Homo sapiens: one gene and its partners. The protein of the gene in region 3 interacts with the protein of the main gene of each other region in a pairwise test. Each region holds a gene or a part of one and is shown on either strand. Other genes may lie near its edges. The genes, in order: KPNA3, KPNA5, HNRNPC and EPS8.

Evidence for each region.
Region 1: the proteins of HNRNPC (region 3) and KPNA3 interact in binary tests that used the Homo sapiens proteins (3 or more experiments, as listed by UniProt).
Region 2: the proteins of HNRNPC (region 3) and KPNA5 interact in binary tests that used the Homo sapiens proteins (3 or more experiments, as listed by UniProt).
Region 4: the proteins of HNRNPC (region 3) and EPS8 interact in binary tests that used the Homo sapiens proteins (3 or more experiments, as listed by UniProt).

Annotation. Positions count from the first base shown.
Region 1 is NC_000013.11:49,698,813-49,705,704, forward strand, and holds the end of KPNA3 (importin subunit alpha-4), read right to left. Parts: coding exon 6,809-6,892; intron 3,669-6,808; coding exon 3,574-3,668; intron 3,087-3,573; coding exon 2,988-3,086; 3' UTR 508-2,987; downstream 1-507. UniProt on the Homo sapiens protein: Functions in nuclear protein import as an adapter protein for nuclear receptor KPNB1. Binds specifically and directly to substrates containing either a simple or bipartite NLS motif.
Region 2 is NC_000006.12:116,677,376-116,684,233, reverse strand, and holds the start of KPNA5 (importin subunit alpha-6), read right to left. Parts: upstream 3,024-6,858; 5' UTR 2,900-3,023; coding exon 2,896-2,899; intron 2,788-2,895; exon of another isoform or gene 2,742-2,787; coding exon of another isoform or gene 2,682-2,741; intron 1-2,681. UniProt on the Homo sapiens protein: Functions in nuclear protein import as an adapter protein for nuclear receptor KPNB1. Binds specifically and directly to substrates containing either a simple or bipartite NLS motif.
Region 3 is NC_000014.9:21,224,427-21,231,455, forward strand, and holds part of HNRNPC (heterogeneous nuclear ribonucleoproteins C1/C2), read right to left. Parts: intron 6,647-7,029; coding exon 6,571-6,646; coding exon of another isoform or gene 6,532-6,570; intron 5,941-6,531; coding exon 5,893-5,940; intron 1-5,892. UniProt on the Homo sapiens protein: Binds pre-mRNA and nucleates the assembly of 40S hnRNP particles. Interacts with poly-U tracts in the 3'-UTR or 5'-UTR of mRNA and modulates the stability and the level of translation of bound mRNA molecules. Single HNRNPC tetramers bind 230-240 nucleotides.
Region 4 is NC_000012.12:15,667,377-15,674,405, forward strand, and holds part of EPS8 (epidermal growth factor receptor kinase substrate 8), read right to left. Parts: intron 3,548-7,029; coding exon 3,480-3,547; intron 2,450-3,479; coding exon 2,288-2,449; exon of another isoform or gene 2,284-2,287; intron 2,161-2,283; coding exon 2,011-2,160; intron 1-2,010. UniProt on the Homo sapiens protein: Signaling adapter that controls various cellular protrusions by regulating actin cytoskeleton dynamics and architecture. Depending on its association with other signal transducers, can regulate different processes.

The DNA of each region.
Region 1 (6,892 bases), on a different chromosome or scaffold from region 3:
TTTTTTGACAAAGCTTTGATTCCTTAATCAACTGCAAATAAGAAAATCTGTGAATTCACCTATGACCTATAAGTCACCCCCTGCCACCCTCGGCTTCAAGACAGCCCACCTTTCTAGGCCAAACCATTGTGTACTGATGTACAATTCTGCCTGTAATTTATGCTTTCCTGAAATTCACCCCTGCCTTTAAAAACCCTTGCTTGTAAAGCCATGAGGGAAGTTGGGTCTTAAGTGTGAGCTGCCTCATTTTTCTTGTTTGGTGCCCTGCCTGCAGATAAATGCCCTCCTTTTTCCTGCTGCAAAACCTTGCTATGAATGTTTGGCCTAACTGTGCCAGGTGAACAGACTCCAGTTTAGTTCAGTAATATGGTGTGAAGGAGATATTAAAATACAGTAAAAGAGTAATTCATGATTTACCTCCATTGTGATTTTTAAAAAAATAATTCCAAATTTAAATTTAACCATACAGAAAACAAACAAGTTATTTTCAGAAATAAGTTTTCAATGTTTTATCATATTTGATAGCAGCTTTTTTTATTGGTTACAAAACCTAAGCCCATATACAAAATTAGGAACACATTTAGATGCCTCTTTTGAAAGAACGTTTTAGTCTTTTTAAACTGAGTTTAAAAAAAAATAACAATGCAATTTTTAAACACTGTTTTGAAAACTTAAAAGTGCAGCAATATACTTAGTTTCCTTTATCTACGAAATGGTGCAATTCCAATTCAAAACTGGTAAGGTCACAAATTGAATCAAGGAAATGCATACAAGTGTCTGCACTACTTGATGCTAATGTTCACTTAAATGTTAGTTTGCACTTTAAAACATGAGAGGAAATAGGAATCATCACAGTAGAGGCCCAATTTTAATCATAATGTGTGCAAATTTTAAAAGGTAACTGTCAGTTAAGTAAGGAAAGTCCAGAAGAAACTAAACTGGAAGGGGTACGGTTCACAATATCAAGAAGATTTGGACTTTTAAGGGTTTCACCGAAGTTTGTGACCTTAATTAGCTTTTACGTTGTTATTCCTACTTTTAGCGAACACCACACAGTTTCAAAAATTTAGACTATAGTGTCCGAACAGGATGCAGTTACCATATGAAGCTTTAACTCAAAATTTGGATAAAGAAAAAAAGGCACAATGAACTTCAACTCAATTTTATGTGCACAAGAGTTGAAAAATCTGAGCCACCTTAAAGAGAAATTGATTCTAAAATTTATAAAACCTATAAATAATCAGAGGCCAAACCACTATATTAAAACAGATTCTCTAGCAAGTAAAAATCTTGCAGTTTAAACATACGCTTGTATCCACTTTAGATACAAGACAAAACTCACTCTTTAAAGTGGCTCCACCTTGGCAGATACATATATTTGTAATGAATGCACACCTGCTATGTGTTGTTTATCAGTGAAAACACCCCAGCTGATTCACAAAGCTCTGATGGCATCTGTCTCATCTTCATCACAGTAAATACACCCCCCAATGGATAACTAAATTAGTTTAGATTTTCTATCCCTTCACATCAATGCATTGGGAAATTATACCCAGTAAACAAGAGCAACAATACCATTTCTGTGACAGCACAAATTATTTAGTTTAAAAATTTTTAAATCCATATTCTTTCATTAATAACTGGGTCAGACAATTTACCAAAAGCAATAACTTGACATAGTAATACCGGATTTTGCAGAATTACTTAGAGATCACTGCAAATCAGGTTTATGTTAAATAACTGCAAATTACTCCTCTACACAGATCCCTGTCTGAATCTTTTAATATGTGAAGATGCTTTTTGAGTAGGATCTGAATTAACTTTCCCAATACTCAAAGAATGAACTCTTATGACACTTCTAAATAGTTGCTGGTTTGTTGCCAACCACATTATCAAAAGCACTGGTTACTAAGTAAAAAATATTTTAAGACTAAATTACAGTAAACATGAAAGCTCCACAGTTTAAACCCAATATAAATCAACCATATCCAATTATCAAATTAAAACAAAGAATATTAACTCCTGAAAGCTGAAAGCAAGATTTTTTTAAAAAACATCACCAATGGGTATTTTAGACTTTTGCAGTTTTTTTTTGTTTGCTTTTTGTTTTGCTGTTTTTCCTTTATACTCAGGGACTCTTGCTTTCAACTTAAACAGAAGTTCAAGTCCATAACAGGTTGCAGCTCAGGTAAAATACCATGCACAGCATTTGATTACTTCAAAACAGCAGGAACACACAGGCTGAAGAGAGTGGTCAAATAGGGCTTGCTGTTCTCAAAAATTAGGTATAATGGCAAAAGCATTAATATCCATATCTAAAGTTCTTCCTCCAACCCTGGCTTCTGAGGCAGATAATAAACACATCAATTACTGGTAGATGAAGTAGTTTTTTTTTTTTTTTAAACTTATCTGTTTATTCAATAACCAAGTTTCTTGTTTTTAAGTTACTTTTTTTGTGTCAGTTCCACCAATGAAAATCATTTGGCTTGTACTTTAAAATCTATTCTTCCACATAAAGAATATGAAAATATGTTTGTGGAGGACAATGATGGAGGCTCAGATCACACTGCACCTCTTTAGTCTTCCAACTTGTATATGCATCATACCAAAGTGTCTTGATCCACAGCGCACCATTTTCCAAAGGAGTATCAGTGGGCAGCTGACATGTCACCACTATGGAATATTTATTCTAAACTGGAGACTGCAGTTGTCAGCCTGTGGCACCAGGGAACAGGGAAAAATAGGGTAGTTGAGATTGTTAAGGAGAGTTCTAAAACAGTTTAGGAAATCATGCATATGCATTTACAGTCCATGTGATAGTGACTTTTGGCAACTGCAAAGTGACTGAGACATGGCTTGCTTTAGAAGCATCAAAACAAAGAGGCATGTGTGTTTTGGAGCCTTTTGTTGCTGTTGTTCTTATCATTTGGTAGCCATCTGGTGGTGCTTCATATTGAATGTGGGAAAGATGCTGCACTCAACTGAATTTAAAAATTAAATTCTTTTGTTTGAAGGTTGGCTGTTGGATCAAAATTGTAGGTACCTCCTTGTGTTGCTTCAGGAATGAGGCAGGGATCTTCATCAATCTGTAAAAAACAAGAAAAAAATCCTTATTAGGTTATGATACTATACATTATGATGTAAGTGGAATTGACTTTTTACCTCTTAGCAAATAATTCTATGTGAATGCTTTAACCAACTAAAAATATTCGAGTAAATCAATAATTTTATTAAGAAATTTAACAATTTAAAATTTAACACGTTTCGAAACTGCATTGTTAAGTTTCTGTATCTGGGACCTAGATTTATTTAACCTATCTGAACATATATCACTTATATAATTACTATTTCTTCCTAGTTAATAGATTAGAAATGAAACAAGAACTGTTTTTACAACTTTACCTTATAATGAAGTTTCAAAGTATTTAAGAGAAAGTGACTGATGGAATGTCTAATAGAAATACAGTACAAACTTATGTCATCCTAATAATAAAAGGAAAACTCTTAGTAAATTTACATCATGTATAGGTTTTCATTTACATGAAGATACACGCTATTTTAATATCTACTTACATCATCACCAGAGAAATACTGATCTATGATTTCAAATGCTAATTTATATATGTCTTCATTTTCATGTTGCTGTAAAACTTCAATTTTCTCCAAACCTGGTAAAAATAAAATAATCAAAATAACTGGTTAATTGATAAGGAGATACTAATCAAAACCACACTCATTTTAATCATGGAGAAATCCTAAGGAACTCAGAACACACTGCTCCCCCATCTAAGATAGTGGTTTGTCTAAAAAACAGACAAAACACGGGGCTGCTTCTAGTTGGAGGACCAGAATCCCACTAATTTTTTCCTTCTTAGAAGCCCTTGAGGTACCCGGATCCCTGAGGCAGACAGTCTAAAAAAACACCCAAACAATCCATTTGACAGAGGGAAGCTGTGGCATAAATATGTAAAGAGACTTATTTCAAGTTATATGGCAAGTTTGTGACAGTACTAGAACCAACTCCCCCACAGTGCTTTAATATAAATTTACTAATCTATTTTTTTTTTGAGACGGAGTCTCGCTCTGTCACCCAGGCTGGAGTGCAGAGTGCAGAGGTGTGATCTCGGCTCACTGCAAGCTCCGCCTCCTGGGTTCATGCCATTCTCCCGCCTAAGCCTCCCAAGTAGCTGGGACTACAGGCGCCCGCCACCACACCCGGCTAAGTTTTTCTATTTTTAGCAGAGACGGGGTTTCACTATGTTAGCCAGGATGATCTTGATCTCCTGACCTCGTGATCTGCCCACCTCGGCCTCCCAAAGTGCTGGGATTACAGGCGTGAGCCACTGCGCCTGGGCATTTTTTCTTTCTTTCTTTTTTTTTTTTTTTTTTGAGACGGAGTCTCACTCTGTAGCCAGGGCTGGAGTGCAGTGGCACGTCTCGGCTCACTGCAACCTCCACCTCCTGGGTTCAAGTGTCTCCTGCCTCAGCCTCCCAAGTAGCTGGGATTACAGGTGCCCACCACTATGCCCAGCTAATTTTTTGTGTTTTTAGTAGAGACGGGGTTTCACCATGTTGGCCAGGCTGGTCTCGAACTCCTGACCTCGTGATTCGCCCGCCTTGGCCTCCCAAAGTGCTGGGATTACAGGAGTGAGCCACTGCACCCGGCCAATCTTATTAATCTTACTGCCTCATAAAGTAATTTGTATCTTTCTCTTTGTTTTCCAAATGTTATTACCTTTATATAACCACAAAATGAGTTTTTAGAACCTTATAATTGGTATAAAAGATATAAAGATTTAAATTTTGAAAAACTTTCTTTAAAAAATGAATAGAGGTCTTATGTCCTATAGCCACAATGAACCTGGGAGAAAATATTTCCAGAACAGATATCATAGAATGCCTTCATTTATATTTCCAATATATTTACTCCACACATCATATACATGTTTATCAATTTCACACCTTAATATTCTTCCTTGAAATGTCTTTTTGAAGGTTATTTTAAAATAGTTGCAATTTTTTCTTATATACTAATAAACCAAAAGAATGGGGGAAATCGTTGCCAAAGTGCTTTATACAATTATAAAATATTAATATGTATCCTATTACTCCTATAGACAAAAGTAACTATATTGATAAAAAGCTGAAGAGTAGTAATTCTCTAAGTTGCTCAAACTTACTGTGTTATGAACCTGACTACAATTTTTAATTATCTTAATAGTAAGAAGATCTGGATTTTAACTTTGCTTCTATCACAACCTACTTCTGTCACCTTGGACAAGACTCCTTAAAATCTGTGGGATAATTTCTTCTCAAGAAACCCTCCCGGCTGGGTGCAGTGGCTCACGCCTGTAATCCCAGCACTTTGGGAAGCCGAGGCGGGCAGATCACCCGAGGTTGGGAGTTTAAGACCAGCCTGACCAACACGGAGAAACCCTGCCTCTACTAAAAATACAAAAATTTAGCCGGGCGTGGTGGTGCATGCCTATAATCCCAGCTACTAGGGAGGCTGAGGTAGGAGAATTGCTTAAACCCGGGAGACGGAGGTTGCGGTGAGCCATTACACTCCAGCCTGGGCAACAAGAGCGAAACTCTGTCTCAAAAAAAAAATAAATAAATAAAAAATAAATAAATAAATAAATAAATAAATAAATAAATAAATAAATAAATAGAAAGAAAGAAATCCTCCCAGTCTGAATATTCTACGGTACTACTGCATTTGTTTTCTCTTAAAATAAATAAATAAATAAACAATAGAATATTCATATAAAGTAGTCAATGAAATGTAAAATCTAAAACATGACATTATGATAAACTAATTTAAGGTTTAAACATGTTAGTACATATTGAACATGTACATTTAAAAACAGAATTTTAACATATGTTTCACATGTCATTAAAGAATAATACAGTATGTCAAATCACAATTATTTCTCATTAAAATTTCAAAGTAACTGCCACAGTAATAACTTCAGGATGTAGTTGTGGAAATCCTAAGAATCATTACAAGATTGAAACAAAATATCTAGGTGACTCAGAAGTCAGTAACCTTTTCCAACTATATGAAATAATATTTCCTAAAGTGGGGTCCACAGAATTACATGGTAATAACACACAAAAAAAGTGTTTCATTGTTAAGAAGTTTAAGAAATGCTGGATTAAATAAAGCTTTAAAATTTATGTAGTGTTGTAAGGGCTCTTAAATTTGCTGTCATGCACTGTGACTTCAAGAGAAGTATTAGTGTTTCCTAAAATGCAATGTCAGGCCAGGCGCAGTGGCTCATGCCTGTAATCCCAGCACTTTGGGACGCTGAGGCAGGTGGATCACTTGAGGTCAGGAGTTCGAGACCAGCCTGGCCAACATGGTGAAACCTCGTCTCTATTAAAAACACAAAAATCCACTGGGTGTGGTGGTGTGCGCCTGTAATCCCGGCTACCTGGGAGGCTGAGGTGTGAGAATTGCTTGAACTCGGGAGGCAGAGGTTGCAATGAGCTGAGATTGTGCCACTGCACTCCAGCCTGGGCGACAGAGCAAGATTCTGTCTCCAAAAAAAAAAAAAAAAGCTATGTTGTCAATCTCTAGAAGGCTATACAGTGACTTTCACAACCTGATTTTGCAAAGTATGGACTACTGTCTTCTGGAAAATCCTCTTGGAATGCAAATATAGTGAATAAAGAAAAGCAACATACTGTGATCATTTAAAAACAACGTATCCTAGTAATTTTCTGTCTAGTAAGTTGACTTTAAAGAACTTATGTTTCAGAGTTCCAGTGCTCAAATACTCTTCTTCCATCAATCCACTCTTACCTCCACATTCCTCTATTATTTCAGCTATTGTGCTTGCTTCATCACCGGCCATTATCAGAATGTTTTTTAGACCATCTAGAACCA
Region 2 (6,858 bases), on a different chromosome or scaffold from region 3:
TCATTAGAAACTGCTCAATATGGCCGGGCGGGGTAGCTCACACCTGTAAACCTAGCACTTTAGAAGGCCAAGGAGAGTCGATCGCTTGAGGTCAGGAGTTCAAGACCGGCCTGGCCAATATAGTGAAACCCTGTCTCTACTGAAAATACAAAAATCAGCTGGGCATGCTGGTAGAAGCCTGTAATCCCAGCTACTCTGGAGGCTGAGGCAGGAGAATTGCTTGAACTCGGGAGGCAGAGGTTGCAGTGAGCCAAGATCGCTCCAGCCTGGACTCCAGCCTGGGAGACAGAGCAAGACTCTGTCAAAAAAAAAAAAAAAAAAAAAAAAAAAAAAAAAAGGCCGGGCACGGTGGCTCACGCCTGTAATCCCAGCACTTTGGGAGGCCGAGGCAGGTGGATCACAAGGTCAGGAGATCGAGACCATTTTGGCTAACACAGTGAAACCCCATCTCTATTAAAAATACAAAAAATTAGCCGGGCGTGGTGGTGGGCACCTGTAGTCCCAGCTACTCAGGAGGCTGAGGCAGGAGACCCCGGGAGGGAGACTCCTGGCATGAACCCCGGGAGGCGGAACTTGCAGTGAGCCAAGATCATGCCACTGCACTCCAGCCTGGGCCACAGAGTGAGACTCCATCTCAAAAAAAAATAATAAATAAAAGAGGGAAACCGCTCAACATAACTTTACTAATAACAATGTTTGGTATTATTCTCTATTTTATATCTATAAAAAGCTAGACTCTTGAAAGGAAAAAATTAGAGATCAGAGTTCATTACAGTGCAAACTGACCACAGTATTAGTTGTTGAATTACGCTCAATATATATAAAATATTTAAGTAAAATAAAATGCTCATGGAAATAAAACTCTTAAAGTATTTATCACCTATATATGTAGCATATTCTAGGCCACTGGCTCTAAACGTTTTCAATCACACATCCTACATTCGTAAAATACATTTGTGCATTCATCCTCAATATATTTATTTCTATACATGCATTACTATTCTAATATACTACTCTAGCATAAAATTCACAAAAAACAGAAATTTTTAAGAATGAAAGTTTTAAAAGGTAAACAAATAGAAGTTCTAATATTTTCTTACCACATCTGACTGGATCACCTTGTGCCCCACCACGCACACATACAAAGGCGCTACTTATGAGACCATTAATCCAAGCAACCACATTGTAACTGTTCAGCATAAATTTTAGCCAAATAAAATACAGCACCAACAACTCAGATATCACTTGTTCCTTTTTCTTCAATAGTACTGACTTCCGGCTTCAGATTTAACACTGCATCCATCCTCACTGCAGTTGCTTTAAAGGGGACAATAAACCAAGGGAAATTATCTCTAAAGGGGCCCCATCCAATGGGATTGTTTCGTTCACTGAAAAATAAATTTAAAGGCTGCACTTCAAAGGCTGAGGTCTCATAAAAATTAAATATTTTTATTTAGAAATGTTATTCCAGCACTTTAAAGTTACAGAATAGAGGAATTTTTTTCATTCATAAGCTTTCAACGGCTCTTAGAAAAACCATGTTTAAGTTGGGCAAATAACTGGAATCTGAACTTATGATTTTCTTTAATATCAATCGACATTATTTCTTATGCCAGTAAAGCCTTCATTTCCATGGGGCTGGGCGCCTCATTAGTGAAAGTAAAAGACTGCACAAAGCGGGGGAAGTGCCAACTAGAGAGCCCTCACAACCAAACAAGCAGTACTTAGGTCGGAGGGAGAGAGTTGCTCCTGACCTACCAAGAAAACCACTTTTGTACAGAATATGAGTCATCATTATTGGGTGTTGTAATTGAGAGATAAATCATTAGTGTTTTTGTCTTTTTTAAAAAACATGTCTAAAAAGCTCAAAAGTAAATGCCAGTGTCATATTCTTTTGTTTGTTTTTTGAGACAGAGTCTCGCTCTGTCGCCCGGGCTGGAGTGCAATGGCGCTCTCGGCTCACTGCAAGCTCCGCCGCCCGGGTTCACACCGTTCTCCTGCTTCAGCCTCCCGAGTCGCTGGGACTACAGGCGCCCACCACCATGCCAGGCTAATTTTTCCTTTTTTTGTATTTTTGGTATTTTTTTTGTATTTATTATTTTGTATTTTATTTTGTATTTTTTGTATTTTTGGTAGAGACGAGGTTTCACCGTGTTAGCCAGGATGGTCTCGATCTCCTGACCTCGTGATCCGCCCGCCTCCGCCTCCCAAAGTGCTGGGATTACAGGCGTGAGCCACCGCGCCCGCCGCCAATGTCATATTCTTTAGACATATCACTGTCATTTCACAGCTTTCAAATACTTCCATCTCCTATGTATTATCGATGAAAACCTAAGTTTTCATCTTAGAACGGAGCTGCCCGACTATTAGAAGCGTGGAACCCAGGCTTGCCTTGTCGTCGGGAATGAGCACTAGAGGCACCTGCACGCAGGTGGAGGAGGGAGGCTGGCGGATGGAGAGGGCGAGGCTAGGAGGCCCTCGGGATGGAACCTGTCTCTTCTTTGGACACTGTGGAATTTCCATAAGCTGCTGGACACAGCTGATGGGTACCAGGTATGAGTGGCAACGTTTGGCAATTCCATTAACTGAAAAGAACTACCGAGAAACGGTGAGGCGGGGCGGCGAAGATGAGACCAGCTGCCCATCACTCCAGAGGACCTGCTGAAAGAATCTGAACTCACCACGCCTTCGCGTCCGCAAGGGAAAGGTCCGGCTGCCACGCCCCCGCGACCGCTGTCGCCCTGGGGAAAACACGAGAAACACCCGGCACCGCCAGGTTCCAGAGACCTTCGCAAAGTAAGGGGTAAATAAAAACCGTGGCCCCAGGAACTAGTAGTTCCCAAAGGGACCAAAACCGAGGCTCCCCCAACCTAGCCCGTGTTCACTCCAACTTACCCATTAATGTGGCACTCTCCGATGCCCTGATTTCCCAGTCCCCAGCGGCGACGTGTGTGGCGGGTAACAGAAGGGCCGCCACTCCGCCCCTGGCGTGAAGCGTAGCGACCCAGTTCGCAATCCAAGATGGCGGCCACCTGCGCCCCTTCTCCGAGACCCCGAGGCTCGGCTCCCAGAAGCCCTTGCACTCGACGCGGCGGCGGCGGCGGCGGCGGCGGCGGCGGCGGAGGAGGAGTGGTGGCCGCACATCCTAGCAGTGGGGCGTAGAGAAAGTGCGCGCCGCCGTCCCACCCACCGAAGGAGGAGCCTGTGCCTGCGACAAGCCCTGGATTTTAGTTGCGCTTGCGGTGGCCATGCTGTAGGTACTCTGCGGCCCGTAGACCTCCGTGTGTGCAAAGGGACGACCCCTCATTCATTCATTCTTCACGCGTGCGTGCATGCATACATTCTTAAGGATATAAACTGTGTCAAGTACCATTTTAGATACATTATTGGGGCTACAACAGTGCAAAAAAGTTGGTAAAAATCGCAGCCTTGTTAAGTGTACGGAGAAGCTCACGTTTTCTTCAGCTTCATTAACTTTTATATGCTCTGCTCGTTTTATTTCAAGCTTTTTGTCATTTATAATTTTATATTCTATAACATCTGCGGTTTTTTGTTTTTGTTTTTCTGTTTTTGGGGGGTTTTTTTTGAGACGGAGTCTGGCGCTGTCACCAGGCTGGAGTGCAGTGATGCGATCTCGGCTCACTGCAACCTCCGCCTCCCAGGTTCAAGCGATTCTCCTGCCTCAGCCTCCCAAGTAGCTGGGACTACAGGCATGCGCCACCACGCCCAGCTAATTTTTGTATTTTTAGTAGAGACCAGGTTTCACCGTGTTGGCCAGGATGGTCTTGATCTCTTGACCTCCTGATCCGCCCGCCTCAGCCTCCCAAAGTGTTGGGATTACAGGCATGAGCCACCACACCCAGCCACATGAGTGTATTTTTGACAGCAATGTAGTCACCAATAAACGAGTAACTTCAGTTAAAGTACTGTAGATTATAATACACAGCCCTGTAATCTACCCTGGAGTTCAACAAACGGTATTGAAAACAGACTGTGTTCCAGATGCAATAGGAAGAGAATAAATAAGATAAACAATACATAAATCCTGCCCAGAAGACGTTTGCAATTTTTTAAGAGGAAAAACATGAAGACAAATTGTTTTAAGATGTTTGCTATTTTCAATAGTTGAAAAATAAACAGGAGAGAAGGGATTATTTAACTGTGGGTATGTAGGGCTGAGAAAGGCACGCTTGACAAAGGAAACCTGGGCAGTGTTACCAGAAAGCGTTGCCAATCATGAGTCCATATAGTGAAGTGAAAGCAAGTTTATTAAAGAAGTAAAGAAACAAAAGAATGGCTACTCCATAGGCAGAGCAGTGGCTTGGGCTGCTGGACTGAGTATATAGTTTTTTTGTGTGTTGTTTGTTTGTTTTGACACGGAGTCTTGCTCTGTCGCCCAGGCTGGAGTGCAGTGGCGCCATCTCGGCTCACTGCAAGCTCCGCCTCCCGGGTTCACGCCATTCTCCTGCCTCAGCCTCCCGAGTAGCTGGAAATTTATTGTATTTTTAGTAGAGACAGGGTTTCACCGTGTTAGCCAGGATGGTCTCAATCTACTGACCTGGTGATCCTCCTGGCTCGGCCTCCCAAAGTGCTGGGATTACAGGCGTGAGCCACCGCGCCCAGCCAGTTATTTCTTAATTATATGTTAAACAAGGGGTGGATTATTCATGAGTTTTCAAGGAAGGGGGCAGGCAATTTTTGGAACTTAGGGTTCTACCCTCTTTTAGACTGTATGACTTCTGGATGTTGCCATGGCATTTGTAAACTGTCATGGTGCTGGTGGGAGTGTCTTTTAGCATGCTAATGCATTATAATTCACGTATAATGAGAAGTGAGGATGACCAGAGGTCACTTTTGTCTTCATCTTGGTTTTGGTGGGTTTGGCCTGTCTTCTTTACGACATCCTGTTTATCAGCAGGGTCTTTGTGACCTGTATCTTGCGTGGACCTCCAATCTTCTGTGACTAAGAATGCCTAACCTCCTGGGAATGCAGCTCAGTAGGTCTCAGCCTCGTTTTACCCAGCACCTGTTCAAGTTGGAGTCACTCTGGTTCAAACGCCTCTGACAACAGGACTATTGGAGTACTGATAGGAGTTTATTTGCCTTAATCACCTGGCCACCCTATCCCTTTCTTATTTCCTCCCTACTCCTCCGTCCTGGGAGACTGAATTCAAATAGACAATGGCCAGAGAATATATACAAATAGAACACTAACCTACAACCTTCAACAACCAGTCCAGGAAGGCAACCTACTATGTCCAGTAACCAGTCCAAGAAATCAGATTACTATATTTAGCAACCAGTCCAGGAAGCCAAGCAATAACCCTTGTAGCAATCTACCCCAAATGGCCAGGACGTGATTAATAACTTACAGCTTCTGTAAGTTTTGTCAGGGCTTCCAACTCAAGGCCAGCTAGAGAGAGCCAAATATCTACCCACCCCTAAATAATTACATAGGATGCCCTGCTTTTAGTTAGCCCACCTGCAGCTTCTCCATGCCAACAGCCTTGAATTGGCATACCTGAAGCTTTCCCTTTTTTCCACTCTAAAGCTTTCTCACTCCTCTGCCTGCCGTTGAGTCTCTGACAAATGCAAGTGATGATGGCTGACTCCCTTGCTATTGTAAGCTCCAAATAAATTTGGCTTTGCTTGTTCTCATTTAGATGGTCTGCACTTGTTTCTATACTCCTGAAGAAGATTCCTGCTATCTGGACATGCCTTCCCTCTGGATAGATATGGCAGAAGAGATGATAATGGTGTCTTTTAGACCTCTGCTCAGCAGGGTCTAGGTCCCGGCTTTTCATATCCAGGAAAGAACTGGAGGAATAGGATTGGTATCAAGATGCTGACTTCATTAGTTGTATGCAATGCCAACCACAGCAACTTCCTACCAAGACCTGACCTTCTATGGCATCTTTCCCAATCTGCCTGTCAAAATAAAATCCACTTCTCAGTGGTCCTTTTATCCCAAAAGCTGCTGCCTCAACAGTAGAGAGCGTATTGCCCTATTAGCTTACCTCCTCCACAAGCCATGATGGAAAAGAAAGGGTTCTAACCCATTGGCTCACCAATTTCTTTTTACTTAAGCAGATGCTATGGTCTGAATATGTTTGTCCCTCTCAAATTCATGTGTTGAAACCTAACCCTCAAAGTGATGGTACTAAGAAGTGGGGCCTTTGAGAGGTGATTACATCATGGGGATGGAGTTCTAATGATGGGATTAGTGCTCTTGTAAAACAAGGTCAAAGGAAATGCCTTGCCTATCCACTATGTGAGTGTAGAGGTACTGTCTATGAGGAAGCCGGCTATCATCAGACACTAAATTTGTCTGAGCCTTGATCTTGGACTTCTGGCCTCCAAAACTGTGAGGAATACAGATGATCCTCAACTTACAATGGGGTTATTTCCCAACAAACCCATCAGTAAGTTGAAAAATATTGTAAGTCAAAAATGCATTTAATACACCTAACCTATTGAGCCTTATAGCTTATCCTAGACTACTGTAAACATAGTCATAACACTTAGGCTACAATTGGGCAAAGTCATGTAACACAAAGCCTATGTCAGAATAAAGTTATAAAGAATTTTTGAATCAAAATTCAAAATTTGAAGTATGGTTTATTATTAATGTGTATCACTTTTGCACCATTGTAAAGTTGGAATGTCATAGGTCAAACCATCATAAGTCGGGGACTGTCTGTAAATGTTTACTGTTTATAAGTCAACCCATTTTTGGTATTTTTGTTATGGCAGCCCAAATGGAATAAGGAAGCAGGTAAGTTATCAAAGTAAGAACATACTTCTTCTGAGATCCTGTTGATCACTGCAAAATTAAAATTTGATATACTTAACTTTACA
Region 3 (7,029 bases):
AACTCTGTGAAACCCCCCTTCATGTAACCATTAATGGCATAATCTATCATCTAGTCACGAAGACAAAATCTCAGCTTTTGACTATTATTTTCCTACAAGCACCTACTTTCATACCTTTAGTCCAACCAATCACATCAAGACCAATCTACTTCAGAAATTCTCCCAACCTCCTCTCCATTCCAACATTTACAATGTTTACCATTTAACACATCTTTTTTCCTCTAGCCACAGGCCTGTTTCTAAAATACCATCTATAGGACACAATCCCAGAACATGTAATACAAAGCCCTTTACAACTAACATTCTTTACAATTTACTTTACAGCTGGCTGCTCCTCAAACACATCAAGGCCCCTCACAACTCAATCTTTGTTACATGTGTCATCTTTGACCTGTGAGTTCTTGAAGATTTGTCTATTTCTAATGCACTGACATATTAATATATTTAGCCATGGAGTAATAACAGCACTCTGAAAACCTCTAAGAATTTCATACTCGTTACTTATATACTGTATTACTAGTCATGCACCACATACAAAATGTGCTAAGTTTAAAAAGTCCTCAGAAAGACCATTGAACTAAACCAGTCTTTTTGAACCAGGTTTCTTGCTCACCAAGTCTCCGCTGTCATAATAAAGCCTGTTATCAAACCTGCCATTTATTGGCAGTTTCTATTTCGTGTTGCCCAAAGTTCTCCAAATAAGAATTAAAGAGGCCAGGAACGATGGCTCACATCTGTAATCCCAGCACTTTGGGAGGGCGAGGTGGGCAGATCACCTGAGGTCAGGAGTTTGAGACCAGTCTGGCCAACATGGTGAAACCCCGTCTCTACTAACAATACAAAAAAAAAAAAATTAGCCACGCATGGTGGCAGGCACCTGTAACCCCAGCTAATTGGGAGGCCGATGATGCACAAGAATTACTTGAACCTGGGAGGTGGAGGTTGCAGTGAGCCGAGATCGAGCCACTGCACTCCAGCCTGGGCAATAGAGCAAGACTCTGTCTCAAAAAAAGGAAAAAAAAAAACAGAGAGAGATGAGACGACTCAAGAAAAGAGCTGACAGTAAATCAGTCTCTATGAAGGCTAGCAAGATGTCCCACAATGACTGAGAGTTCTTTTAATTCTAAAAGGTGTCCATCCTCAGGCGTAAGAGTTACCTTTTGAGGCTGGTAGCACCAGACGGGTTTCATCTATGTCTCTAACTGGCAAGTATCCTGATGTAGGTAGGGTCCACGAGATATGACAAAAAAGAATGACTGTCCATAAGACAGTGATGTATCCTTTTTCAATTGTAATGTCGCATCCATTTTCAATCAAAACGTCATTCACATACCATAAAATTCACCATTTAAAAGGGTGCCACTCCGTGGTTTTTATTAGTTCTGCAATATCACCATTATCTAATTTGAGAACAATTTCATGGGTGATCAATTATAAGGGAAAGTGGGGTTCCAATTTATTACAATCTGAAGAAAATATATCTAGTTTATATCTAGATATAGTTTTAGTATGAAAACACTGCAGTATTTGTGGCACAAATCAGAAAACACATATAGATCAAGACTTTTATGAGAATTTTTTAAAGAATTATAAGAATAGTGCCAGGTTGGGCCAGGTGCAGTGGCTCATACCTGTAATCCCAGCACTTTGGGAGGCCAAGGTGGATGGATCATGAAGTCAGGTGAGGAGTTTGAGACCAGTCTGGCCAACATACTGAAACCCCATGTCTACTAAAAATACAAAAAATCAGCTGGGTGTGGTGGTGTGCACCTGTAATCCTAGCTACTCAGGAGGCTGAGGCAGGAGAATCTCGAGAACCTGGGAGGCGGAGGTTGCAGTGAACCGAGATCTGCACCACTGCACTCCAGCCCGGGAGACAGCACGAGACTCGTTTCCAAAAGAAAAAAAAAAAAAAAAAAGAAAGAAAGAATAGTACCAGGGTAGCTGTTGACGAACATCAATTTCATGTATATGCCAGCCTACCTAAGGACTTAAAGATCTATTTTTAGAGTACTTCCCAATCTCGCTTAATTCAACAACTACAGCTTTGAATACTTGTGCATTCCCAACATTGTGATAAAAATTCACTTTTATTACAACACCTTTCGCAAAACAAAACCAGCGCCTTCAAATGAATATTAAAAAGAGGGCCAGGCGTAGTGGTTCACACATGTCATCTCAGCACTTTGCGTGGCCAAGGCAGGGAGATCCCTTGAGCCCAGGCGGGTGGACCACCTGAGGTCAAGAGGTCAAAACCGGCCTGGCCAACGTGGACAAACACTGTCTCTACTGAAAATACAAAAATTAGTTGTGTGTGGTGGTGCACACCTGTAATCCCAGCTACCTGGGAGACTGAAGCAGGAGAGTCGCCTGAACCCAGGAGGCAGAGGTTGCAGTAAGCCAAGACCAACCCACTGCACTCCAGCCTGAGTGCCAGAAAAGACTCCATCTCAAAAAAAAAAAAAAAAAGGGGGGGGGGGGACAGTGATTTTTACTCCGATTTACATATGAAGACCCAGAGCTTTCACTCAGAGCCAATTTCCCATCTTCTTTGATTAAACAATTTAACATAGTCAATGAAGTATCGCTGTTACCATTTAAAATAAAAATCTAAACCTTATGATAATGAATCTTCAGAATGACTTCTTAGAAGATATTAATACCATTTTTCTAAGTTGTTATTCCACCAGGTCATACCCAACCTATTTCCCAGGTCCAAATTGACCTAACATTTTCCAAACCAGCAAAAAACTCCTGTATCTGCCCCTCTCCCCACTAAACAAACACTCCTCCTCCTTTCACCTTCATTAACATCTATCATGTAAGACACACACTCAATTCCTCAATTCTCCAACCCAACTTGAGTAAGTTCCCATCATGTGGACACCTCCTAAAATTCATTTTCCCAACAAAGATCTCAGTACTCTAAAAGTCAGCTCTTTGCCAGCTATTACCTAGTTGCTCCACTAGTTATCAGTAATCATTATCTACTGGCTGACGTTAGAACAATAGAAGACATTACTTTTCACTGACAATAACATGCAGCAATATATCCGACAGTAACTACTAGTATCGGCTGGTGCAAAAATAATTGCGGTTTTGCTTTTTACCGTTCAAAGAAATGTCAAAAACGGAATTACTTTTGCTCAAACCTAATATATTGTTGTCTATTGAAAATCTGAAGAGGCCACCAATTTCTGTGAAGATATTTCTGCAAACGTGATTTCTTTAGATTTCTCTGCAGTATATATCTCATTGTCTCAACTAATGTTTTCCAAATTCCCTGCTCAAATTTTCAAATTTCCCCATTCACAATGTGCCTTGCCAAGAAAAGACTTTTTAATGAGAACTATTTTCAAGAAGACTGTCACTGTATACTGCTAAAACTTGATACACTCATAAAAAACATCAACTAAGAGTCCATGACATCCCTGAAATTATACCAACAAAAGTGTGAGTTTATTAAACTGGTCTGAATTGAGCCATGACAAAGAAATAGGATAATAATACACAGAAACACAACCACGTCCTTAATCTTTTATTAATGATTCTCAACTCTGACTGGACAAAAGAACACATAGAAAGCACTGAAAAATATACTAGTACTTAAGAAAGTCTGCATAAGACCAGTTGTGTAAGAATCCCTATAGGAGAAGCTGGCATGAGTATATTTTAAATGTGGTCAAGCAATTACCATGTGCAGAAAGGGTTAAAGGGCAGATGCTTCAGACAAACTCACTGGGTTTCAGTGCCTTCAAGACACCTGACCAATAATTAACCCATCTATGCCTAATGTTCCATTACTGGAATGCTAAGCTTGTCGGAGTTATTTATATCCTACTGCATTAGGTCATTACCAAGGTCTGATTGCAAAAATTCAAAAAATTGCAATTTCAGGAATAAATGGGCTGAGTTCACTAGTAATGTCCTGATTTATTTTCAACTGGAAGTTCTCCATTGATTTTTATTTTGTTTTATTTTTTGAGAAGGAGTCTCACTCTGTCACCCAGGCTGGAGTGCAGTGGCGCGATCTCAACTCACTGAAACCTCCACCTCCCGGGATCAAGCAATTCTCCTACATCATCCTCCTGAGTAGCTGGGACTACAGGCGCGTGCCACCACGCCCAGCTAATTTTTGTATTTTTTTAGTAGAGACGGGGTTCCACCATATTGCCCAGGCTGGTCTTGAACTCCTGACCTCATGATCCACCTGCCTTGGCCTCACAAAGTGCTGAGATTACAGGTGTGAGCCACCGTGCCCAGCTGATTTTTATTTTTTAAGAATTTCAAAAATTTCAACAAAAATAAAAATGAAGAATTACAGAACTCCTTAGTTTTCAAAATGTTCACACATAACTGTAAAAATCTGAGGAAAGGGCTGGACACAGTGGCTCACACCTGTAATCCCAGCACTTTGGGAGGTCAAGGCGAGTAGATCACCTCAGTTCAGGAGTTCGAGACCAGCCTGGCCAACATGGTGAAACCCAGCCTCTACTAAAAATACAAAAATTAGCCGGGAGTGGTGGTGCATGCCTGTAACCCCAGCTACTTGGGAGGCTGAGGCAGGAGAATTGCTTCAACCAAAGAGGCGTATGTTGCAGTGAGCCAAAATCACGCCACTTCACTCCAGCCTGGTGACGAGAGGAAAATTCCGTATTTAAAAAAAAAAAAAAAAAAAATCAGGCCAGGCGTGGTGGCTCACGCCTGTAATCCCAGCACTTTGGGAGGCCAAGACGGACGGATCATGAGGTCAGGAGATCGAGATCATCCTGGCTAACACGATGAAGCCCCGTCTCTACTAAAAATACAAAAAATTAGCCGGGTGTGGTGGCGGGCGCCTGTAGTCCCAGCTACTCAGGAGGCTGTGCCAGGAGGCGCAGCTTGCAGTGAGCCAAGATTGCGCCACTGCACTCCAGGATGGGCGACAGAGCGAGACTGTCTCAAAAAAAAAAAAAAAAAAATCTGAGGAAACCGCTAATGTCAAATGAAAAAAACATTTTGATGATGCATTAATGATGCTCAACCACACCATTTTATTATGGCATTCAAGGCCCTTTACAATCTGGATTTGAATTCCTTTTCGGGCCTTACTCTTCTGGCCTTCTAATGACTACGTACCATATTCTGTGAGGTTATTTCTCAAACAGAAAGTCTATACTTTCATGTCTGACACTTTCAGTGTATACTTTATGGTATTTAACGGCTGACTTGATTCCTTTACAACTCCCATGCATGACTGATTAACTCAGTTCAAATGTTAAGCATTCCCCAATCAGTAATTTTTATTCCAAAATCAGACTGAATTGTTATATACAGTAATAACATTAAAATACTAATGACTGGAATACTGGCATTATAAGACAAATAGTATATAAAGTAATATGCTTTATATATTGCATGTTTAAAGTCTATTGCATACAATAGTTTGCTCCATATACTTACATATACTGCATGAGTTTGAACGCGACAAGCCAAATAAGTCTTAACATTTCCTTCATGTTAACTGAGACTGATGTTATCAGAATGTCAATGTGGTAACACTCTTAAGCACATCATCCTATTTCCTGTTAAGCATTTGCTATCAACAGTTCTAAATCTGTTACCCAAAGCCACCCATAACCCAGTCCCTAGTCACCACACTCAGCGAATTTTTTTGTATTTTTAGTAGAAACGGGTTTCACCACGTTAGCCAGGGATTATGAAATAATGCATTAAAATCAGTATCACCCTACCTAATAATCTACTTAATGATTTAGAAAAAGGTGTTTTTTTGTTTTGGAGTTAGGGGAGTATGTTTGAAAACATCTTTGATGTTCATCACCACAAACCAGAAGAACGAAATGGTTCTCACTAAATAGCTGTTTAGCAGAAATACAAAACATTTTAACATACCTATCATAATAGTCCCGTTGAAAGTCATAGTCCAAGTCAAAAGAGGAGCTGAAAAATAAATACCGAAAAGGGTTAATTTGGAAATGTTTCTACTAATTCACAATGTCAGGTGAGGGGAGAACCATGCCAAATAAACCACAACAAATAGATCAACAAGATTAGCACTGAATGATCCCCAATCATTCATACAATAAATCACTCAATTCCAATCACCTTAGACCACTGGAAATGTAGCGGTCAAATTGGAAATTCAGGTTAAAATTCGCTAAGATTTCCACATACGACATAGCTAAACTAAACACTGAAAAACAGAATGGTAAACTAAGCATTCTTATACCACACTTCTACCCTCTCTTACTCTCTAGTGTCTTAGAAGCTCAACGATCCTGTATAAGTATTTCAGGTTATGCTATAAATATCAAACTACTCTTTAATATCAATAGCAAAAACCTCAGGGATTTTTAATTCTCTAGAAATTTTCTCTAGGGCAAAAAAGAGACATATTAACACAAAAATAATAAAACCTTATTTATACACAGATAAAACACAGTACACTTAAACCTCCCCACACCCAGAAAACAGAAAGAGAAGATGCCCACTGATGGACACAATGCAGTTATAAATAATAAAGTTCCGGACCTGAGTAGAGGGGACGGAGAAGGGTGTTCTGTTACTGACCCGTACATCTCCGCTGCAGATCGTTTCACACCTGCTTTTCCTCGGTTCACTTTTGGCTCTGCAGCCAGGTTAATATCTGAAAAACAAAAGTAAAAATGTTAATGACAACTTTGTATCCGGGTAAAACAAACTACAAAGTTTATTTTTTTTATTTTTGAGACATAGTTTCGCTTTCTCGCTCAGGCTGGAGTGCAGTGGTGTCACCTTGGCTCACTGAAACCTCTACCTCCCGGTTCAAGCGATTCTCCTGCCTCAGCCTCGAGAGTAACTGTCACTACAGGCGGGCACCACCATGCCCAGCTAATACAAACTACGAAGTTTAGAAAATCACACAGACACATAAATTAGAAAATGTGGAACAAAACAACTCATCTTTCCTTAAGACACTGTCTCACTGTCATACAAGCTGGAGTGCAGTGATGCAATAATGGCTCAATACAGCCTAGACCTCCGAAGCTC
Region 4 (7,029 bases), on a different chromosome or scaffold from region 3:
GCCAAGGTCACATTGCTAGTTAAATGAGAGGCCAATGCATCCCAGTCCAGTGTGACTTCCTAAGAGCATTTAGTTTCAATAAGACATTACAAATATCGTGTCAAAGGCTTTCTGTTACATAGGATACTAAAACTGAAGATGAAAAGATATTTAATTAAAAATAATTATTTAAAAAAACCCAAAATGAAAACTGAAGATGCCTAGGAATCTTCAACTTCTTATACTGGGGCTATTATATTTCTAAGAAAAATTTTACTGCAAAGGTGGGCAGGAGCATTGCATGAAGTCCTATAATAAAGAAACTTTAAAAATCAAAAGCAATATTGCACAATGAGCCATATAAAAGAAACTGCGTTTTTCATTGCCTCTATATTTTTAACCAGCCAAGCGAAAAATGTCTCATATGCAGAGTATGAAACTAATGAGTAAATGCATACAGTGCTTCGTGGTATGTGAGCTTTTGGGGTTAGGACAAAACTATATTCAGTAAATACATTTTGAATCCATTATCATTACCATTCCATATCAAGTAAAGCAAGCCATTTGTTCCCAAACCTAAAATCCAGAAACTTTTCACAGCATAGTAACTTTTAGCTCCCGGGGGGGGCTTTTTAGAACACAGATACAAACATCAAATTTGAAATGTTTTTCAACTTAGGCCTCTGGTTTATAAAAATGTTTGAATTAAATTTCACTATATTTTTAAAGCAAAATATTCCCTTTAATATTTATTGACTGAATATATCTAACCTTACAAAAATTATAATATACTATGACTTTCAAAAGGCACTATACAAAAATCTGATGAATATCACTTACACAAATTACCTAAATGCCAGTTCTTTTAGAAGAAGGTTTTTAGAAAGTCATCCATGACGTAAATTGAAATTAGAAGAAAATTATAAAATACAGTTTACAGTCAATCTTACTTTATCTATCATCTTTAAATGTCAAAAAACACAGAAAAGATCAAGTAACTGTGCTAATCTCCTAGAGTTTCTTTATAAAATAAAATTACATGGATATTTTATAATATATCATCAAAATGTTAAATCACTGCTTTGGCAAAGTACCAATTAACACAAAATGATTTCTCTTTTAAAGAAAACAACTGAGGAAATAAACACATTCAAGGTTGAAGATAACTTCTAAGGTCCAATAAAGCATCACAAATTATAATCATTTGAAATTACACTGTACTTTGAAATAGAAACTTTCAGGATATAGCCTGTTATTACTGGCTCAACTATTTTCACATATCATCTGGGAATTACAAATCCTGAGCAATGAATCAAGTCACATAATTAAATGGTGAACTTTAAATCAATATCGTGGGAAATGTCTAAGTACTTCATTGCAGTAATCCATGCTATGTCATTAGTGCAGAATAAATTCAAATTACATGATTATTTACTGTCCACAAAGCAAGATTTCTGAACAATCAATTTTTAATTATAAGTTTAAGGCATTTGATGTGAATTTAATATATTATCTACACTTTAAAAAAATAAACAGAATGCATCTTATTTTTAAGAGACACAATCTCAATCTGTTGCCCAGGCTGGAGTGCAGAGGGGTGATTATAGCTCACTGTAATCTCCAACTCCTGGCTCAAGAGATCTTCCTCCCTTAGCCAACTGAGTAGCTGAGACTACAAGCGTGTACAACCACATCTAGCTAATTTTTAAAACCTTTTTAGTAGAGACTGGGTCTTGCCATGTTGTCCAGGCTGGGCCCAAACCCCTGGCCTCAAGCCATCTTACAGCCTTGGCCTCCCAAAGCACTGGGATTACAAGTGTGAACTACTGATTTGATTAACATCACCCTAATTTCTTTATTTACTTGCCATGGAAATCCTAGAGAAGATACTAAGGTATTTGTTTTCCTTACGAGATGCTCAGAAACTAAAAATCTAGTAACTAATATGCAGATATATTATCAAAATAGGTAATTCAAAAGCTCCCAGACAATCTGCTTAAAGAAGAAACAAAAATTTCACCATTCTTTTACCTTAACCTCATCACACTGGAAGAGATGAAGATCTGGCTTGTTCTGGGTTGGCTCTTTGCACACCAGTGCAAGAACTGAATCATAGCTGCATGAATGCATCACAGCTTGGCAGTGCTGGATTGTGTTTAAAGGAAAATTCTCCAGTTCATTCTATAAATAAAGTGAACATTTTATTTTGTCAAACTTCCATCCATTTTCAAACAATCTGAAATGATTGTAAACATTAATATTTGTGGAGTTTCTTGAAAATAAAATAGTATAAATTTTACACACTTGCCTTTGATTCTAAATCAATCAGGCTCACAGCTCTGTCATCCACTTGAAGAATCATATCTTGAGTCCACACTTTGCCCTTGGCATCAAGCAATTTCAATTTCCTTATTCCATCATCAACAGTGATCATAGCATCTTTCCGATCCAGGACAAAGGTAGTCAAGTGCTTACAATTGGCAAAAAGGAAAAAGATTTATAACACATACAAACACATACAACCTCTTAGTATACATTTTCCAAAAGAAAATCAAATAACCTGAGGTCAGCTAGCAGAGAACGACAAACACAAAGTACTCTTAAAACTTCATGACTATTTTAATGAGAGAATAAAGCCAACCAAGGTTTTTTTTGAATAGAAGAAATGGTGTTTTGACTCATAAGATACCTAAATCTGTTTCATACGGAGCCATGTTGAACTACATAAACATGACATTAAAACAAATTCTTAACAGCTTAAATAATATTCTCTTAAAATAAACTTTCCCCTATTTGACACTCTATTATGGTTATTTAAATGCTGAACATAGCAGCATTTAAACAGCAGGCTATCTGTATGGGAGCTTCAAAACTATGGACACTGATTGTAGCAACAGCACAATTCTAGTCTATAGGAACTGTCAAACTATTCAATCCACTAAAACCACTTACTGAAACAAAACTGTTTAAATTTGATTAAGCATGCTTGACATAGGTAGAAAACTGAAAATAAGAGCAATTTAAAAATTACTTCCCTGCTTAAATATTTTCTATTATAAGCACAGGTCAACCAGATAAATTCCAATCAAGAGCAAATATCGTAAAAGAGGGCAAAAACTAAAAAAGAACCATTATTTAACTAGAACTGGCAATAACTTTAGTTAAACTAAAAACTAAATTGCTCACTGAAACTAGCAAAGGCTTAATTTCAAGAAGATTCTATAGTACAAAGTAAAAGCCATTATTCTATTATAAGTGAAATAAGACTGGCAAGGATAAATGGATAGTAGTTATGATTTTAAATCATTCTTTATGAAAATAGACCACAGACTAACAAGATACTTTATATGTAATATCTGTTTTAAAAAATCTAAACAAAAAGGTCAATGCAACTTAAAATACATCATAAGAATGAAATAAAACAGAATTCTGATTTAACTTCCAATTTTTATGTTCCTCAAGGGTCACTCTAAATACTAGCAAACACCAAAGCATCTTACTTCAACACGGTATTGAGATATATCTGACACACTGCTGACACTGTCCCGTGCATAATTCTTCCTTTGTTCTGAAAGAGAAATTGAAAAAGCCATGATTTGTCCCCTAATAGACTGAAGTTCATATGTTGGTATCATGTGGCTATCTCTAAAACTAGTCTATCTCACATATAAATACAGTAGCTGACAAGTTGCCATTGTGTGGTGTATCTGAAAACACTCATTATTCGCAGTAAATCTAAAAACCACAAGAAAGTCTAAATAATAGGCAAGAACAATTTGATCCACTATCCATTTTTAGAATTCCAAAGGTTAACAAGAGTATAAATATTATAAGAAAAAAAGTTATTTCATCTAAAGGTTTTATTTATCAGTCAGGGACCTACTGTTTGACAAGTCAATTACAACTGGCTTATAAATTTCATCTGTTACTGCACTGATATCAAAATGTAATTGCAAATATTGTCATAGATACTGTATTATATGAGTTAGACTACATTATTAAAATAATAGGCATTACAAGGAACATCTCCTTTTGCAATATCCAAATTGGGATAGTGTTAGAGGAGATTTAAAACATGATTCAATCACATGGCTTGCCATTAAATATTAACAGTTTTCACACATCTACAAAACACACAAATGTGATACTTAGAATTATAAATATAAGCTGATAGGAAAAACAAGAAAGTCAGGTAGAAAGTTATTGCACCAAACTACTTAAAAAGCAAAAAGAAACCTTTAATTTTCTTTTCTGAAATGCTGCAAAACCAAAAAAATAACATTAAAATATAAAATGTATGTCGGCAATATTTGGTATTTGTTACTCTCTTTTTAAAATTTGTATTGTTTTTTAAAATATGGAACACTTCATGAATTTGAGTGCCATCTCTGCACAGGGGTCATGCTAATCTCTGTATCATTCCAATTTTAGTATATGTGCTGCCAAAGTGAGCACTATTTGTTACTTTTCTAATCAAGCAACTTGCTTATTTGTAAATTCAGAGTTGCCCTATTTCTTCTAAACAGAATGCTATGATGAAAAATAACTCTGAGAGGGAATTATAAGATTTATTGTTCCAGCTTCGGCTCTGTCACTAAGTAGGAAACTAAATTTGGGCAAGAAACTTAATACCCTGGGCCTCAGCACCCTTACTGTAAAATAAAAGGATTAAACAAGGTCAAACCTAAAGGCCTTTAAGCCATTAACATTCTGACATATAGATATACCTTAGCTTTCCCAACAACCTATTTTTTTGTAAATGTAAACCTATTTCTTTTAGTTAGTATAGATATTCTATAATAGATAAGTTGTTTGGAAAGTTCTGCTGAACATAAAAGCTGAGCAAGTACAAAAATATAAAGTGCATATATACATATGCAGACTCAGAACATTAACACAGAATTTTAAGAAAACTTAATAAATTTTCATTTTACAACACATATGAATTTCATTTATATTTACTTTTAAAATTTAGATTAAAATCTCCATGTCCTTGTATCAATATTACTCTGATATTCCAATACACTCCATTTTTGCTTTTGCAGCATTAAAATTACTTAATAAAAACAGATGCACTACAAAATTCACTCTGTGCTACCTTTCTTTTTTTGTTTGGATGATGACCTGAGGAAGTATGATCCATCTGGTCCTACCAAAATAATGTCATCAAAAAGAAAGATCTGGTTTCACCTAAAATTTTCTCTCCCAATATAACAAAACATAAACCTTCACTTACATGACTGTATTCTACATATTTTTAAAAAGTGAGCGACTGTGATTTTTCTGATTAGTTGTTGAGGATTAATCAGTGTGAGATATTAACACATCGATAATTGTCCCTGTGACAGCCGTTATGACTCTTGTAATACAATATATAATTCAGGAATATATTTCACAAAACCACATCTAGAAATAATCACTATTTCAGAGTCACTGGTTCACCATATTCTAACACAACTGTCCACGATAGATTCAGAGCAGGAGGGCTCGGCTTGCTTTGATCTGACCTTAGGACAGAAAAGAAATGGCAGTGGTTGCCATGACACCCAGTCATGATATGGCAGCTCCTGGATGTTCAAATGCTTTGTCTTTCAGGTAATTTATTGGCAAATACAACAGTTGAAGATCTGAAATACTGTGTGTTTCTATTTAGATATTCTCATTATGAAGTATTAAGAATTTATCCCTGACCTCTTGATTTCCTAACCCATAGTTTCCCAATCCCACAGAAACATAATTTACAGAAATGAGAAGAAAAACTATCTGATAGCATTTTAAACAGTATGACATTAACCGATCACTCTGAGTGCCTAGAAGATATGGTGTCATTTCTAATATTCCAAATTAAGAATCCACTTTAGGAATTCCTAAGCTGCTTTCTCTATGTTGTACAATAAATAAGTTGTATAAGAAACTACCTTTTAAAGATCCTAAAAATGTATAAATGCCATAAATGGACTTATAAATAAACTAGTAGTTCCAGTGATTTTTAAGTCAATCCATAAAGGTTAATATTAACATTTTAATAGGCAATTTTGAAAGACATTTCCTAAAAGGCAATTATAATACATTTCTTTTTTATGAGAATCACATGTATTCACAAGAACTGGTATAAATAGTAATTAGGCTCCTAAGCTAGAAATCTCACCAAAGCCTTAAAACAGTATAAAAAGCCTAACTAAAATCTCTCAACACTACTCAAGATGAATCCTCTAATGAAATTCACCACTTTTGCTAACAGTGGTTCTCATCCTTGGCTGCATGTTGGAATGAACTTTATAAAACAGTGTGCAACTCATCTACTATATACTATCTCTTCAAGCAGAACATTTTCCTTTCCAAATTAAGAATGTAAATATCGTCAAATGGTATATTAAATAATAAATTCATGAATAAACATGGCAGTAGGGTTTTAGGTTTCTAGTAGTACAAGCTGCTCAACTCCTAACATAAGACTAAGTCTATTTCCCCTCCTATTCTGGCCCCTGCCTCTCTTTCTCGCTCAGAATCAATTAGAGGTAGGATGAAACTTACTTGGCTATAGAACCACTGGTTGTGTTTCACTATTTTGTCTATTAGCTTTTATGTCATGGTCCAGAATGTACAACTCCAAACAGACAGAATTACATGAATTCAGTAACCAACGATGAAAAATATTTACATACAATTTTATCATACACTATTGCAAAAATTGATATTCAACTCCCAGATCAGAAATACTAAATTTAGGTTTCATTTAATTTGTTAATTAGTTGAACTACAAGTATAAAAAGCATCCAGGTGTTGGTATTTACACTTAATTCCCTTTCACATGCATTGCTGTTTATGCATAATATAACATTTGAAACGGCTAATATTCAAAGATACAGCTAATATTTAGAATTTTTTTTCTCTTTCTCTAAAAACAAAAATGTTCCTTAGAGAGTAAGGATTTGGCCATTAACAAGAAAAAAGTAACATAAAAGCAGCTGCTGAGTATTCCTCTCTCTAAATAAAACAATGGGCTAGAACTCATATTACTTTATACTTACAAAAACTTTCAACCACAGT